Linked DNA regions of Homo sapiens. The protein of the gene in region 3 purifies or fractionates together with the protein of the main gene of each other region. This does not show direct contact. Each region holds a gene or a part of one and is shown on either strand. Other genes may lie near its edges.

Evidence for each region. The genes of interacting proteins can lie anywhere in the genome.
Region 1: the proteins of INTS12 (region 3) and ZDHHC11 purify together in Homo sapiens (co-immunoprecipitation; one large-scale study listed by IntAct). This does not show direct contact.
Region 2: the proteins of INTS12 (region 3) and ALDH3A1 purify together in Homo sapiens (co-immunoprecipitation; one large-scale study listed by IntAct). This does not show direct contact.
Region 4: the proteins of INTS12 (region 3) and P2RY8 purify together in Homo sapiens (co-immunoprecipitation; one large-scale study listed by IntAct). This does not show direct contact.

What each region holds. Positions count from the first base shown.
Region 1 is NC_000005.10:847,913-852,216, forward strand, and holds the start of ZDHHC11 (palmitoyltransferase ZDHHC11), read right to left. Parts: upstream 3,075-4,304; 5' UTR 2,691-3,074; coding exon 2,469-2,690; intron 749-2,468; coding exon 570-748; intron 1-569. UniProt on the Homo sapiens protein: Endoplasmic reticulum-localized palmitoyltransferase that could catalyze the addition of palmitate onto various protein substrates and be involved in a variety of cellular processes.
Region 2 is NC_000017.11:19,738,025-19,741,868, forward strand, and holds part of ALDH3A1 (aldehyde dehydrogenase, dimeric NADP-preferring), read right to left. Parts: intron 3,187-3,844; coding exon 3,069-3,186; intron 2,454-3,068; coding exon 2,312-2,453; intron 1,651-2,311; coding exon 1,484-1,650; intron 1,072-1,483; coding exon 972-1,071; intron 430-971; coding exon 299-429; intron 212-298; coding exon 197-211; 3' UTR 1-196. UniProt on the Homo sapiens protein: ALDHs play a major role in the detoxification of alcohol-derived acetaldehyde. They are involved in the metabolism of corticosteroids, biogenic amines, neurotransmitters, and lipid peroxidation.
Region 3 is NC_000004.12:105,691,497-105,695,340, forward strand, and holds part of INTS12 (integrator complex subunit 12), read right to left. Parts: intron 1,991-3,844; coding exon 1,803-1,990; intron 640-1,802; coding exon 480-639; intron 1-479. UniProt on the Homo sapiens protein: Component of the integrator complex, a multiprotein complex that terminates RNA polymerase II (Pol II) transcription in the promoter-proximal region of genes.
Region 4 is NC_000023.11:1,526,912-1,530,755, forward strand, and holds part of P2RY8 (S-geranylgeranyl-glutathione receptor P2RY8), read right to left. Parts: intron 1-3,844. UniProt on the Homo sapiens protein: G protein-coupled receptor for S-geranylgeranyl-glutathione (GGG), an endogenous metabolite present in lymphoid tissues.

The DNA of each region.
Region 1 (4,304 bases), on a different chromosome or scaffold from region 3:
CCTGGAGGAGGCCGCGCCTGCCCCATGGTTCCAGGAGTTGAGGCCGGGGGCTTGGATCCCACCTGTGCCTACAGGGCCTCCCTTGCAGCTGACAACAGCCCTGTAGCCAACCCCTAGGCCATCACAGAGGCCTCCAGGGCCCCTGGAGACACTGGAACCCTTACCTCCCACTTTCCTAGGGGCTTGTCTTGAAACTCCCCAAGAAAGACAGTGCTCTCTTGCCCTGGGCCCTCAGGGGAGGGACCTCGTGCACAAAATCCACTGAGGACCAAACATGCCTGAGTGCTGCTGTGTTTCATTCCAGGGGAGCAGCGGGTCACCTGCAGGTGACAGACCCAGCCCTCCAGTCTCAGCCCTGCCTGCGGAGGAGTTGGGGCGGCCCGGCACCGCGCCCGGTTCACAGCGAGATGAGGGGCGATCCACCCGCAGCCACAGGGCCGGGCCCTGGAAGCTCCACTAGCATCAGCTGCGGCCATGGCACGGGCCCTGAGGGGCCAGCAGTGACCTGAGCACCAGGACCCTGGAGGTGACCCTGACACCTTGGGGCCTCGGCGAGGGCGGGCACTCACACGGTGACCTTGCACAGGTGGCAGAACTGATTCTGGATCACGTGTGCATGTTTTGATCTGTCGAAGAGGGGCATGGGCTGAGAATAGTTCTTCATGAGTCTGACATTGGAGTCGGCCGGGTCGATGCAGGACGCGATCAGGTGGACGACGAGGTGGAACGAGAAGATCCCCCCGGTCACCTGGCATGTCAAGGAAGAACCTGGCCCAGGGCCTGGTCAGCCTGGCACGAGGCGTCCCCGTGAGGCCCAAGGGCCCAGAAGAGGCGTGGCCGCTGGTCAGCCCTGCTCACCCAGCCCTGCACACGTGAGCCCAGCTCACCCAGGCCTGGCCCTGCTCACACAGCCCTGCACACCCAGCCCTGCACAACTGAGCCCTGTTCGCCTGGCCCTGCTCACCTGGGCGTGCTCACCTGGGCCTGCACACCCAGCCCTGCACAGCCAGCCCTGCACAGCCAGCCCTGCACACCCAGCCCTGCTCACCCGAGCCCAGCTCACCCATGCCCGGCCCTGCTCACATGGCCCTGCTCATCCAGTCTTGCACACACGGCCCTATACACCCGGCCCTTCACACATGGCCCTGCACACACAGCCCTGCTCACCCAGATCTAGAGGAGATGAGTCCACCCGTCGGCCCTGCACACACAGCCCTGCTTACCCAGGCCTAGAGAAGATGAGGCTACCCATTGGCCCTGCATACACAGCCCTGTGCCAGTCGGGGACCGGGAAGGCTGCCCCCGTGCCCCTTTTGGTTCATCCCTGTTGGACACAGGGCAAATCCCCCACAGAATGTACCGCACCCCCAGAGGCTCAGTCAGCCCAGCCAAGCACAGTGACCCCAAAACCCTTTACAGCTTGAGGGACAGAGCAGGGCCACAGGAGGGACATCCCAGGTATAAACACAGCCGGATGCAGCCCCAAAGGCCCTGGAGGAGCCTGGGTTCTTTCATACCAGAGACCCCTGAGCACTGGGAGAGAAGACAGCCTCAGACAGGAGGAGCAGGGGGAGGAGCGAGGGAGCTGCACAACCTACCCGCTCCCTGTAGACCCCAGACAGCTCACTCAGGGACCCTCTCCCCGAGAATAGCTCAGGGAAACCCCCCTCAGACTCCCTCAGGGCCCCTCCGGACTCTCTCGGGGACTCCAGACTCTCTCGAGGACCCCAGACTCACTCAGGGACCCTGGGCCTCTTTCTTGGGCCCTCTGGGCTCAGAGCCTGGCTGCGGGGGCACTGGGGAGAGGATCCTTGTCCCCTGGAGCCAGGAGAAGCTGGGCTCCCCGTGCCTGGGACGTCAGCTCCCGCCCTCAGATCCTGGCTCCCTCCTCCTCTCACCCTGGGACAAACACAGACTCTCCATGGCAACCAAATAGAAGGGGTGGAGTGCGGGGCCCTCCAGTCACCCTGCCTGGCCCCTGGACCGCCTTCTAGCCAGGAGTTCAGGGTTGACAGCCATCTCCGCAGGGCAGCCCAGAGGCCCTCGCAGTGTGGCCTAAGCTTGGCATGGAAACGCAGGCTGCCGACCTGCGGGGCATGGCGCTGTTCCTCCTTGGCACCAGGGGCAAGGAGAAAGGTGCTGGCCATGTGCAAAATGCTGCGCAGGGATTTTAGCGGAAGGCTGCCAGCAGGGCGGGTCCTGCGCCACGCCAGGGGGCTGCTGTCCCTCCTGACAGATTCCCTCTCCGGAGCCCCCTCAGCCAACGCTGTCCTGTCCTGACCCTAAGCAGGGGCTGCACAGAGCATGAGTGGCCACTGGGCCCACCTGCAGGCTCAGGGGACATAGTCTGGCCCAGGGCAGGTGACTGGTGCCACCGGGCAGCCATGGCCCAGACCCCACAGCCAGGTCCATCGCAAGTTCCTCCAGGAACCCCTCCCGCTTAGACCATGCCACGATGAAAAGGATACCACGTAGGCAATGTATTTCCACGCGTGAGGCAGGAAGGGAATGAAGATCCCGAAGGTGGCCGAGGAAAGGCCCACGAAGACAGCCCAGGTCACCACCTGGAAGTAGTGCAGGGGTAACGACCAGCCGTTCACTCTGGAGATGCGGGGCGGCAAGACCAGCTTTTCATTATTGAGTATGGCTTCTGGGGTGACGGAACACTGGCTCCCGGAGCGGGTGTCCATCTGCAGGACACAGAAGGGGAGGACCTGCGCCGTCAGATCCTGGGAGGGCCGGCCCCGCCCACTGTCACAGAGACCAAGGGGACTGGGAATGCAGCCGCCAGGACCAGCACTGACAGCCAATGGCCCAGCACTGCCTGGGGCCACGTTCCCCGCAGAGGGAGCAGGGGCTGGGCTGGAGTCGGTGCAGGGCCCCGCCCAGGGGAATGAACAGACATGCTGCAGAATGTGACCCCGGCCAGAGCCGAGTGGCAACGGAAAACGGCTCTCCAGGGTGTGGAGGACCCAGTGCCCGCGCGACCGCCCATCAGTTCCCCTGAGGATTTGTTACGTTCTGGGGAGTGCTCGACAGCCCCCACACAGCGACAGGTCCCACAACCCGTTCACGAATACACAGGCCCACCCAGGACTCCCCAGGTGCAAGAAGAAAACCCACGTCAGAAAGAGGCCACACTGAGCAGAGGGCTGCGCCTGTGAGAAACTGAGGCAATGCCTGAAGAGCTCGTGAGCCGTTACTCACTGGTGCAACACTGAAACCTGCCAGATCCTCCCTGAGAGGCTTCTCTGAGCTTCCCAGAGGAGCAGGACCCGAGAGCTCACTTCACAGGGTCCTGTGTGTCTCCCCTTCCACAGGACAGGGAAGCCCGTCCAGCCACGCGGGGCTGGGGTCTCCGCCCGGGTGGACAGTGGCTGGGAGGTTCTGAACACGCTGCGGCTGCTCCTGGCCAGTCAGGTGGGGAGGGCGGCAGGGGTGGGAGGGACGTGGTGTCACAGAGCGGCAGTGAAAGACACTCAACGGCCGCTACGGGGTGGGGGGTTGATCTTGAGGGGCTGGGCGGTCTCTACAGAGGAGGGTTAGGAAGCTTCGCCACGTTATGCCTCGCTCAAAGTCCTTGTTGTCTCTTTGGGAAAAAACCTTCAGAAAATGAAGTTGATATTAAATGTATTTCTTTGAGAAGAGAGACATTGAGAAATAGTTAACAATTCTTCGTTCTTGCAGTCGTGAACGTCCATGATACAGTGGCTCTGCGCTGCCTTTGGTGGCTCCTCCCTGGTCCTCTAAATGTGACACCAGGCGGATGCGGGGCCACAGGACCCTGGGGCTTGAGTCACACAAGAATGTCTCTGGGAGACCCGAGAGACTCACAGTTATGAAACAGGACCATGGTTCTTTGGCCGGGCGCGGGGGCTCACGCCTGTAATCCCAGCACTGTGGGAAGCCGAGGCGTGCCTATCACCTGAGGTCAGGAGTTCCAGACCAGCCTGGGCAACACGGCGAAACCCTGTCTCTACTAAAAATACAAAGATTAGCAGGGCATGGTGGCACATGCCTCTAATCCCAGCTACTCGGGAGGCTGAGGCATGAGAATCGTTTGAACCTGGGAGGTCGAGGCTGCAGTGAGCCAAGATTGCACCACTGCATTCCAGCCTGGGCAACAGAGGGAGACTCCATCTCAAAAAAAAAAAAAAGAAAGAAAGAAAAGTCAAAGTTACCAAGGAAGGAAATAGAAACACAGAAAGACAACCCTGTACATTAAAAACACAATTCCCAGTTAAAAACAAAACCCAAATGAAAGTGCCAACAAACAGAAATGATGTCGCCAAGTCACATTGGTA
Region 2 (3,844 bases), on a different chromosome or scaffold from region 3:
AGAAAGGGGTGGAGACTTGGAATGGTGAGGCCTGGGCCCATGTGGGAGTGGGGTGTGCACAGGTCAGCAGGTCAGCAGAGGAGTGGGGCTGGGCTGGGGCTGCAGGAGCGATTCTCCCAGGGCCAGGAGAGCCAGTGAGGGTGGTCCGCACTCCGATGGGACACAGTATGGCCAGGCCAGGCGGAGCAACCCCTCCTCAGTGCTGGGTCATCTGTGAAAGGGACACGGAGTGGGCAGTGATCCCCAGGCCCTGGTCCCGCACAGCCCGGTCTCCCCCACAGCGCCTTCCCCCTCTCACCTTGGCCGGGCTCGGGGGGTATCTGACCTTCAGGCCTTCATCATTCATCAGAGGCCTCACCAGGCAAGAGCGGCGGTGAGAGAAAGTCTCGAAGCTCTTCTTGCCATGGTAGGATCCCATGCCGCTGTTCCCTGCGGAGGAGAAGTAAGCACAGGGCTCAGCATCCTGCCCCCAGGACGCCCCAGGTTTCCCTCTCCACCTTGTTGGGTGTATCCCAGAACCACAGGGACAGGGAGGCAGAGCCCCAGCCACCATCACCCATCCTTCCCTCAAATCCTATGGCCCTCAGCACCCAGCCCCAGGTTGTGGCCCTTTTCTGGGCCTCCTGAGGGTGGCCAATGTCTAGGGTGTCCCCAGGGCATCCACACTGTGGGAGTGCCCAGCAAGGGTCTAATCCCAGCTCTGCCACTAAATGGCTGTGTGACCTCTGGCCTGGGTCACCTTTCTCAGGCCTCCATGAAATAGGCCGGTGCACCAGGTGACCTCTAGGAACCTCTAGGCTCCCAGGTTAAGTGTGTCTGATGGATGGCACGCAGAGGCCAAGGTCCAAATGGAAGAGGCTAATGGGAGGCTGCCGCCCGGGCTGCAGGAGGTGGTCCCTCCTGAATTTGCTGGGTGAGTGTGCCCAGCCCTGGGGCCCAGAGGGAGGCAGCAAGCTCAGCCCCAGACTCACCCACGCCCCCGAAGGGCAGAGAGTGCAAGGTGATGTGGACGATGACATCGTTGGCCGCCACCCCACCACTGGATGTCTCTGCAATCATCTTCTTAATCACCTGCACCAGGACCCAGCCACTGGCCTCAGTCTCCTGCCCACAGGATGCCCCAGCCCCCAACCCGACCCTGCCTGGGTATAGCCTGGAGCCACAAGGACAGGAGCAGGTGGAGGCAGAGCCTTAGCCTCCATCTCCTGCTCTTCCTGCAGACCGCGTGGCTGTCAGCACCACATGAGCAAAGAGTGACAGCAGCCGCCCCCATGCCTGTGTGCAGGGCCCTGGGCAAGGATCGCTCATTCAGTGCCCTCAGGTGATGCTGCTGTCCTGATCTTACAGACGAGGTGAAAGGAGCTCAGAAAGATCCAGTGACTTGCCCAAGGTCACACAGCCAGAGAACAGTGAAGCTGCAGTTTGAACCCAGGTCTGTGGGCCCCAGGACCCTGGCAGAGGGCACCCCAGGCCCACCACCCACCTTGTCGTTGCTGGAGAACATGTAGAGGGCCAGGGGCTTCTCACGCTGGTTGATGAACTGGATGGCCTCCTCCAGGCTGCGCACGCACACGATGGGCAGCACAGGCCCGAAGATCTCCTCTTGCATCACCGGGGACTGGGGGTCCACGTCCGTGAGGATGGTGGGGGCTGAGGCAGGAAACAAGCCAGAGTTGGACGGCGCAGAGACCCCCACGCGGATGGAAAGTGCAAGCACCTAGACCCCTGCTCCAACCCTTTTCCAGGCAAACCTGCCCAGGCTTGGAAAAGGGCAGGGACGAGGCCTCAGAGAGGTACCCTAGGCACCTGCGTCCTGGATGCCATCTGAGCAGACCACTGGGGACAACTATAGGTTAACCTGTACGGAAGGACCCGAGATCTGTCTCCAGGAGCAGGCACTGCACCTGCCGGCCACCTGATGCCCTGCCAGAATTCTCTTGTCTCCTTGACAAACTCGGGGCCAAGAGGGTCCCATCTGGTGACCCACAGCCTGGGCACTGGGGGCCCCTCACGGCTGGGCACACCTGGGGCTCCTGTGGCTTCTGCTGTCCCTGCTCCTGCTGCTTCAGAGGGGCAGGGAGATGAGGCCCCTCTTTCTGGGCCTTTGCTGGGAGAGGGGATTCTGAGGTTGAAGCAGGGGCTGTCCTCAGCCCCTGCCTGCTGGAGTCTACCGCAGGCTCCCTGGTGAAAGCAATTTATACCCATCCCGAGGTCGTGTCCGCTTATCAAGCATCTGTGCCCACTTGCTGTGAACTTGCTGGGGACCCCTGCAGCCTGGGCAGGTGGGCTGTGCTCTTCAGGGGTCACGCACCTATGTAGCGAGTGGCGGCATCCCCGGTGCCCCCATAAGCCACCTTCTGGCCCTCAATCAGGCCCATCACCCTCTGGAAGTGCCGGGCACTAATGATTCTTCCATAGTCCCGGGATTTCTTAGCATCTTCCCCGTAGAACTCCTGTGGAGAAGAGGTGGGGGCTTCGGGTAAGGACGCAGAGCCTCGTCCTGCCCAAAGGCTGCACAGACACAGGCCAGCAGTGTCTGTCTTTGGGTGGTGGGATTCTGGGTGGAGCTTTTTTCTTCTTTATGCTTTTTAATCTTTTCTAAATAATCTATAGTGAGTGTGCATTATCTTTTTTTTTTCTCTTAGAGACAGGGTCTTGTTCTGTTGCCCAGGCTGGAGTGCAGTGGTGCAATCATAGCTCACTGCAGCCTCAAACTCCTGGGCCCAAGCAATGCTCCAGCCTCGCCGTAGCCTTCTAAGTAGCTGAGACAACAGGCATGCACCACCATGCCACCATGCTTGGCTAATTTAAAAACATATTTTGTAAAGATGGGATCTTGCTATGTTACCCAGGCTGGTCTCAAACTTCTGGCCTCAAGTGATCCTCCACTCTCTACCTCCCAAAGTGCTGGGATTACCGGTGTGAGCCACCATGCCTAGCTTGCATTATGTTTATATTAGAAGAAAATAAATCCAGTGTTTCCAAATCTGTAGAAGTTGGTTAAGGGGCCAGGCCCCCCTTGTGCCTTACAGCCTCTCATCCCACCCTGCCAAGGGGTCAACACTCACTTTCAGTGACTTCTTGAGCTTCTCCACAATTTGGTTCTGGATCGAGGGGTCACAGAGGATGTAGTCAGGGGCCACGCAGGTCTGGCCACTGTTCATGAATTTCCCCCAGGCGATGCGTCTGTGAGAATCCCAGACTGGACTAAATCCAAAAGGTTCCCCAGGAGTTGCATCTCGTTTTGCAGACCCCTGAGCTCTCTGGTCAGCAGAAGCCATCGGCTGTGACCTTGCCACCAGTGAGTCCTCCCAAGCGGTCTGCTCACTTCTAGACACTGGACCGAGCAGACCCAATGGCCCTGATCATGTTCACCGGCGACTGGTGGGGAATTTCTAGAGGACGTCTGTTGAGGGCAACCTCCGTGCTCCCTGATCACGCCCTTGTCCTGCACAGCCAGGTGTCACTGCTACTCGGGCCCCCCTACATCTCTGGGGCCACAGATGTGGGATATGGAGGTGGTCAGAGCCCTGGCTAGGGTCAGGAGGTGCAGATACGGGTTCTGCCCCAGACCCCGAGCAGCGGTGGCCCTTCTCCCCTCTGGGCCTGCTCTCCAGAACTCAGATTGCCCTGCCCCATCAGAGGGCTGAACCCAGTACAGTTCCTTGTGTCCTGAACGTCCCACAGCTGCTTTTTCTGCAGCCTCTGCTTGGAGTACCACTTCCCCAGTGATGCGCACTCAGCAAACAGAGCTCAGCCTAGACCTCTCCCCCTCCAGGAAGCCTTCTGGGACTCCCCACACGTCTTCTGTGCATGTGGTCCCCACCCCTACCCCCATGTAAGT
Region 3 (3,844 bases):
GACTAAGCAACAGAGAAATGCAGCTGGAAAGACAGATATGCACATATAAATATCGCCTCTGTACACATCTTATCCATGCGGTGGTTTAAGCTCACTCAGAAATTTTCTATATTTCCTTACCAGATCTCAACAAAGAGTGGGGCTTTGTATCTCACCACTTCTCAGTGCTGCATGGTATTTTAAAATGTTTGTCAATACATTGACAGACTAGTAAGGAATATTCATAATTTGTGTGTCACCAATCTTGTTTTATCTATATTAGAATTAGATAAAACTAAAAAGAGAAAAATGCACATAACATGGTCTGGTCTTTAGCAATAGAAATATTAATCACATGTACATACTATACATATAAATAAATAATCAGCTTATATTATTTATTTTTTCAATATCTTAAATATTCAAATCTTTGTTTTGAAAGCACATACCAACAAAAACATTGACAGACTGTTTAAAATAAAGAAAAATATGATTCCTACCATTCTTTTCATTTGTCTGGTACATCGGGCACAATACCACACCAGGCGAGGGTCATTCGCTTCCTTGTCTGTCACCTGGGGTTTATGACAATCTCGGTGGTAGAGATTATGGCACTCCTGACATTCTACTAATTGATTGCCAGATGCCACCATCATTTGCCTAAGAAAACATACCATTAAACATTACACTACTTTTTTAAATGCCATAATTTAAAGTTATTTCAGGGGCCAGGTGTGCTGGCTCATGCCTGTAATCCCAGCACTTTGGGAGGCCAAGGCAGGCGGATCATTTGAAGTCAGGAGTTCAAGACCAGCCTGGCTGACACGGTGAAACCCTGTCTCTACTAAAAATACAAAAATCAGCTGGGCATGGTGGTACACACCTATAATCCCCACTACTCAGGAGGCTGAGGCAGGAGAATCGCTTGAACCCAGGAGATGGACGCTGCAGTGAGCCAAGATCATGCCACTGCACTCCAGCCTTGGTGACAGAGTAAGACTCTGTCTCAAAAAAAAAAAAAAAAAAAAAAAGTTATTTCCAGGTTGTTCTGGTAAAGTTTGGTATATTAAAAAGAAAAAAAATCCCAGAAACCCAAAGAGCAAATAACAAACCCCAACACTTGGCATGCACAAAAGCATAAGCTTTTAAAGCTTATGGTCAACCATTAATAAATATATAGAATGCCTTAATTAAATTTGGCTATTTTCTCGTCATTTCTCGTCATAATTTTTGCCTTTCTCTCAGAAGGTAGTAGACTCTGATTAGTCTTCCAACAGCCTCATAACATTTTGTATCTCCATTAAATTCCCTTATATTAGTTAGCTGTATGTTGTTGTTGTTCTTCATTAATATGAGTCACCTAAAGGTGAGTACTGGACCTAATTATCCACAGTCCTTAGCACATTACTGTGCACACATAGGGTGCTCAATAAATGTCTGATCAGATTAATAGAATGAAGCCATGTGTGTATAAAAAAGTATAAATTTCAACAGCACAAAAAGCAATCACCATAGCCTTAGATTATCAAAGGCATATATATCATAATATAATAATCACTTTCCCTCTGGAACCCAAAAATGCAGAAAATGTTACAACATAACAGATTTAAAAGCCATAGTTGGGAAAGACAAAATAGTTGACAATTTTCAATATGCTAAATTGTTATATGGGCAGTTACCTACTTATCTCCACCCCAGTTCCAAATAGTAAAAACAAAATAGAAAATGCACAACAATTTTTCTGATTTTGGGGGTTGAGGAGTGGAAAGGGTCATGTGTTCTTTATAAAGTAACAAAAGAATCTGTGGCAAGGTACAACTTACCTACAAACAACGCAGGCCAATCCCATCTCCATGGCAAAATCATCAGCACTGGTCTCCTCAAAACTGGAAAGGTCAGCCATAGGTAAATCCTTGCTACTTTGGACAGTAATGGGAGATGACTGTGTTTCTGGTTTCTCCAATCTAGGTTTCTTTGGAATATCAACTCCTTCAGTGATGTCTGATTTCATCTATAAAAAGCAGGCATCAGAAAATGATAAAGTAATGTGGTAGAATAAACTTTAAGTCACTGAAAGACGAGTGAGAAGGACAATTGGCAATGAACAAGTCCATTTTACAGATATATTCACATAGTTAGGGACAGATGTGCACATTAAAGATCTGTAGAAGAATTGCAATGAATTTATTAGTATATTAAATGAAACCAGCAAGATAGAAATAAATAAATCAGAACAGTTTAACAAATATTTGTATTTCTCTTTGTACTCTTCTATCTACTAAAGAATTATGGAAGATCGATGGATTTACTTAGACTAGTATCTACCATACAGACTTAACACATATTTGCTTCAAAGCAAATTCGGATTCCCTTCTTTAAGATATAAATATTATCAATATACCCATTAGATTTGGCAAAAATCAAAAAGTCTGATAAGACATGGAATTTGGAATTCTTATACTTTGTTGATGACAGTGTAAATTTAGTACATCTACTTTTGATAGAAATTTGGCAATGCCTAGTAATGTTGAAGATGTCATATCCTATTATATTCACTTATAGGTATACATCCTATAGAAACTATTAACATGACATATGTATAAAGTAGCTCACTCAAACTCCATTGTAATAGAAACAAAGGAGAAATATCTAATTGTGCATCAGTAGGGGAATGATAAACTGGTTAATCATTCCCCTATGATAAATCAGTAGGGGAATGATAAACTGGTATTATGTAGTAGCTAAAAGAAATCTAGATCTACATGCATTAACAAAGATACATTTCAAAAGCACATAGTTGAGTGGAGAAAAAGTTACCAAAGGATATACACACACACAGTATGATAACATTTACATAATTTTTTTTTTAAGACAGAGTCTTGCAGTGTTGCCCAGGCTGGAGTGCAGTGGCACAATCTCTGCTCACTGTAACCTCCGCCTGCTGGGTTAGAGTGATTCTCACGTCTCAGCCTCCTGAGGTGCTGGAACTACAGGTGTGCGCCACCACACCTGGCTAATTTTTGTATTTTTAGTAGAGAGGGGGTTTTGCCATGTTGGCCAGGGTGGCCAACTCCCGACCTGCTGACCTCAAGTGATCCTCCTGCCTTGACCTCCCAAAGTGCTGGGATTACAGGCATGAGCCACCACACCCAGCTTCACTTATGTAGATCTAAAAACAGAGAAATAATCTAATGTAGTTTATGAATAGCCACTATTTAGCAAAAGTATGAAAACATACGGGATAATATACTCCATCTTGAGGGCAAGGGTTACTGAAGATATCTTTCAAATGTATTTTTTTCTAACTACTAAAATCTTAATTACTATATGTAGAAATCATCTAAAAATAGACAATCCAAGAATCATCTTTGGCACTGTTCAGGTGCATACCACTCTATAAAGTTTATGTTTAGTCATTTACATCTATACTCTTTCCCATCTTTTCTTTCTTGCTTTCCTTTTTTTTTGAGACAGCGCCTCACTCTGTCACCCAGGCTGGAGTGCAGTGGCACGATCACCGCTCACTGCAATCTCTGCCTCCTGGGCTCAAGCAATCCTCCCACCCCCCACCCGCCCACAAACAGCTGGGACTACAGGTGCATGCCACCACACCCAGATGATTTTTGTATTTTTTGTAGAGATGGGGTTTCATCATGTTGCCCAGGCTGATCTTGAACTCCTGAGCTCAAGCAGTCTACCTGCCTCGGCCTCCCAAAGTGTATCTATCTTTTCTTCTTAACAACTGTTCCATCTAGGATCTCTGAGGCATAGATTAAAGTTTACACTCAAAGTTACTATACTCCCTAGGACTCAAATATTTATTGACAATAACTTTTAACCACTTAACTTTAAAATTTGTAAATTT
Region 4 (3,844 bases), on a different chromosome or scaffold from region 3:
AGACCGAGTTTCACTCCTGTTGCCCAGGCTGATGTGCAACAGCTCGATCTTGGCTCATTGCAACATCTGCCTCCCGGGTTCAAGGGATTCTCCTGCCTCAGCCTCCCAAGTAGCTGGGATTACAGGCGCCCACTACCACGCCTGGCTAATTTTTGTATTTTTTAGTAGAGACGGGGTTTCACCACGCTGGCCAGGCTGGTCTTAAATTCCTGACCTCAGGTGATCCGCCTACCTCAGACTCCCAAAGTGCTGGGATTACAGGCGTGAGCCACCGCGCCCAGCCTATTCATTCATTTCTTATCCATCCACCTACCTATCCATCTGTTCATCCGTCCATCTATTTATTCATTCATCTACTCATTCATTCATTCATCCACTTATTCATTCCTTATCCATCCACTCATCTATCCATCCATCCATCCATCCGTTTATCCATCCACTTATCCATACATCCACTATTCATTTGCCCATTCATTTATTCATGATCCATTCATTCACTCATTCATTTATCTATTCATTCATTCATTTATTCCTTATCCATCCACTCATCCATCCATCCGTTCATCCTTCAATCCATCCATTCAGTCATCCACCCATTTATCAATACACCCACTATCATTCACCCATTCATGTATCTATTCATTCAATCATTTATTCCTTATTCATCCACCTATCTATCCATCTGTTCATCCATCCATCCATTTATTCATTCATCTACTCATTCATTCATCCATCCAATCATCCCTTCATTCATTCATTCATCCACTCATTCATTCCTTATCCATTTACTCATCTATCCATCCATCCATCCATCCATCCATTCATCCATTCATCCACTCTTCATTCACCTGTCTACATATCCATCCATCCACTCACTAATGTACTAATCCACTCATTCACTCATTCATTCATTTATTCATTCACCCATCTATTTATGCAGCCATCCATTCAACCATCCAACAAACAGTACTGAGGCCATGTTAATCTATTCTGGTCTCTCATCTACAAAGTCACAGCCCCTACAGGGACCCTGCTCATTCATTCCCTGTGGCTGAGACTGAAGGGGTATCTCCTGTTTCTATTCCACGTGTGGCCACCTGCTGGTCTGTCCCTGTCCTGAGTGCAGGAGTAGTCTCATTCTCCTCCACCCCAAGAACAGATGAGTGATAAATAAATACCTGGAGACAGAATGCCTCCAACCCCAGGGTAATAGCCTGAGTATCCTAGAAGTTTCCTGTGTTCATGCCAAGAGCTTGTGATGGACATATGGACACTGTAGATGGACAACAGCGCCTTCACTGAGCAGCTAGTGCCTGGGAGGCCTCCAGCTTCACTGAGCCTCAGGTTTCATCTATTGCATCTCACAGAGAGGCTGTCTGCAACATGCCCATTTCAACCACTGGCTGAGAGGCTCATGCAGGTATGCATGTGACAGGGCTCCTTGCTGGAGAGTGGGTTCCTGGAGATTCCATCAGAGCTACTGCTGCACAACTGCCCCTTGAGGAGGCCATCACAGCTCTGAGCAGCAGGCGCTGCCAGTCAGCACCGTGTGAACTCAAAGTCTTGCATTCATCCTCATACGACATCTTCAAAACCACTTTAAACGTCCCAGGGAAGCCCGGAGGAGCAAGTGCTTCCAAGAGGCTGGCTCTGGTCTTTGGATTGAGTGTGGATTTGAGTCTCTTTGAATGAGTGTGGATTTGAGTTTCTTTGAATGAGTGTGGATTTGAGTCTCTTTGAATGCGTGTGGGTTTGAGCCTCTTTGAATGATTGTGGACTTGAGTCTCTTTGAATGAGTGTGGATTTGAGTCTCTTTGAATTCGTGTAGGTTTGAGTCTCTGAATGAGTGGACTTGAGTCTGTTTGAATGAGTATGGATTTGAGTCTCTTTGATTGCGTGTGGGTTTGAGTCTCTTTGAATGAGTGTGGATTTGAGTCTCTTTGAATGAGTGTGGACTTGAGTCTCTTTGAATGAGTTGGATTTGAGTCTCTTTGAGTGTGGATTGGAGTCTCTGAATGTGCGTGGATTTGAGTCTCCTCATTCCTGCACTTTTTCAGTTCCCTTTGTTGCATGGGACAGTATAAATGACGCTCCCCATTGATCCAGTTTTGCAAGTAAAAATGTCACATGTGGAAGCCAGCATTTAGTCCTCGGGCAGATAAGCATGTTTGATGAGAATAACACGTACACACAGCGGGGCCCTTGGTCTTGGAAAGGTGGAGAATAAATCCTCCATTTCCCCTGAGACCTGACCTGCACAGGGAATATCTGCTTAATCTACACATGTGTGGCTTGTAACGACAGAGTCTCTTCAATTCTACTTACTTTATTATAGTAACAAGAGCATGCATACAGCACATTGGGAGATGGAGAAATGGAAGGAAGTGATCCAGAGTCCCTTGACCCAGCCCATTCTCTCCCTGAGACCTGGGGGATGGGACATGATCTTGCTTCTCCTTCCAGGTCTCTGGAAGGATCATCTTGTCTTATCTTGCCTGCCTCTCACCCTGTGGTTCAGAATTGCGGGAGATTCTGTTCCAGTGGGGATGCTTGTCTATATCTTGGGCAGTTTGGGGTGTCACAACTGGAGGGTGTACTCCTGGGGCGTGGTGGGTGGAGCCTGGGAAGATGCTCAGTGCCCTGCAGTGCACAGGATAGGCTCAACACAGAGAATCCTCCAGCCCTACATGGCAGCAGTGCTGAGGCTGACACCCTGCCTGAGCATGAGAGAGTCTCTGTTAGTGACTATCTATCCATCTATATCTATCTATCATATCTATCATTTATCAATTTATCTATATATCATATCTAGCTCTCTGGCACCTATATCTATTTATTTATTAATCTTCTCTGTCTGTCATCTATCTATACCTTTCTAGCATTTATCTCTCATCTCTATCATTTATCTGCCTACCATTTGACAGTGGTTTCAACTAGGGGTGATTTTTCTCATCACGGCACACTGGGTAATGTCTGAGGACAGTTCTGGTTGTCGCAACTGTGGGGGTGCTCCTGGCATCTGGTGGGTGGATCCCGGGGATGCTTCTCAATACCTTACACTGCACAGGATGGCCCCACCACAGAGAATCACCCGGCCCCAAATGTCTATAGTGTTGACGTGGAAAGATCCTGCTTTTAGTATAGAGAATCTCTCCTCTCTCTCTCTCTCTCCGTCATCCATCTATGTATCCATGTATCTATGTATCTATGCATCTATGTATGTATGTATGTATGTATGTATGTATGATCTATCTATCTATCTATCTATCTATCTATCTATCTATCTATCTATCTATCTATCTATGTATCCATGTATCTATGTATGTATCTATCTATCTCTATTACCTATCATCACCATTATCTATCTATCTATCTATCTATCTATCTATCTATCTATCTGTCATCTATCTATATGTATGTACATATCTATCTATCTTATCTATTGCTCATCTATCTAGGTATCTCTCTAATCTATCATCTATCTCTCTAATCTATTAATGCACCTATGTATGTATCTATGTATCTATCTATCTAATCTATTTATCCATGTATGTATGTATGTATCTACCTATCTAATCTATGTATGTATGTATATATGTATCTAATTTATGTACGTACATATGTATGTATCTATTCTATCTATGTATCTATCTATCTGATTGATCTATCTCTCTATCATCACCATTATCTATCTATATGTATGTGTGTATCTATCTATCCTATCTATCTATCTCTCATCTATCTATGTATCTCTCTAATCTATCATCTATTTAATCTATGCATCTATATATCTATCTATCTAATCTATTTATCCATGTATGTATGTATCTATCTAATCTATGTA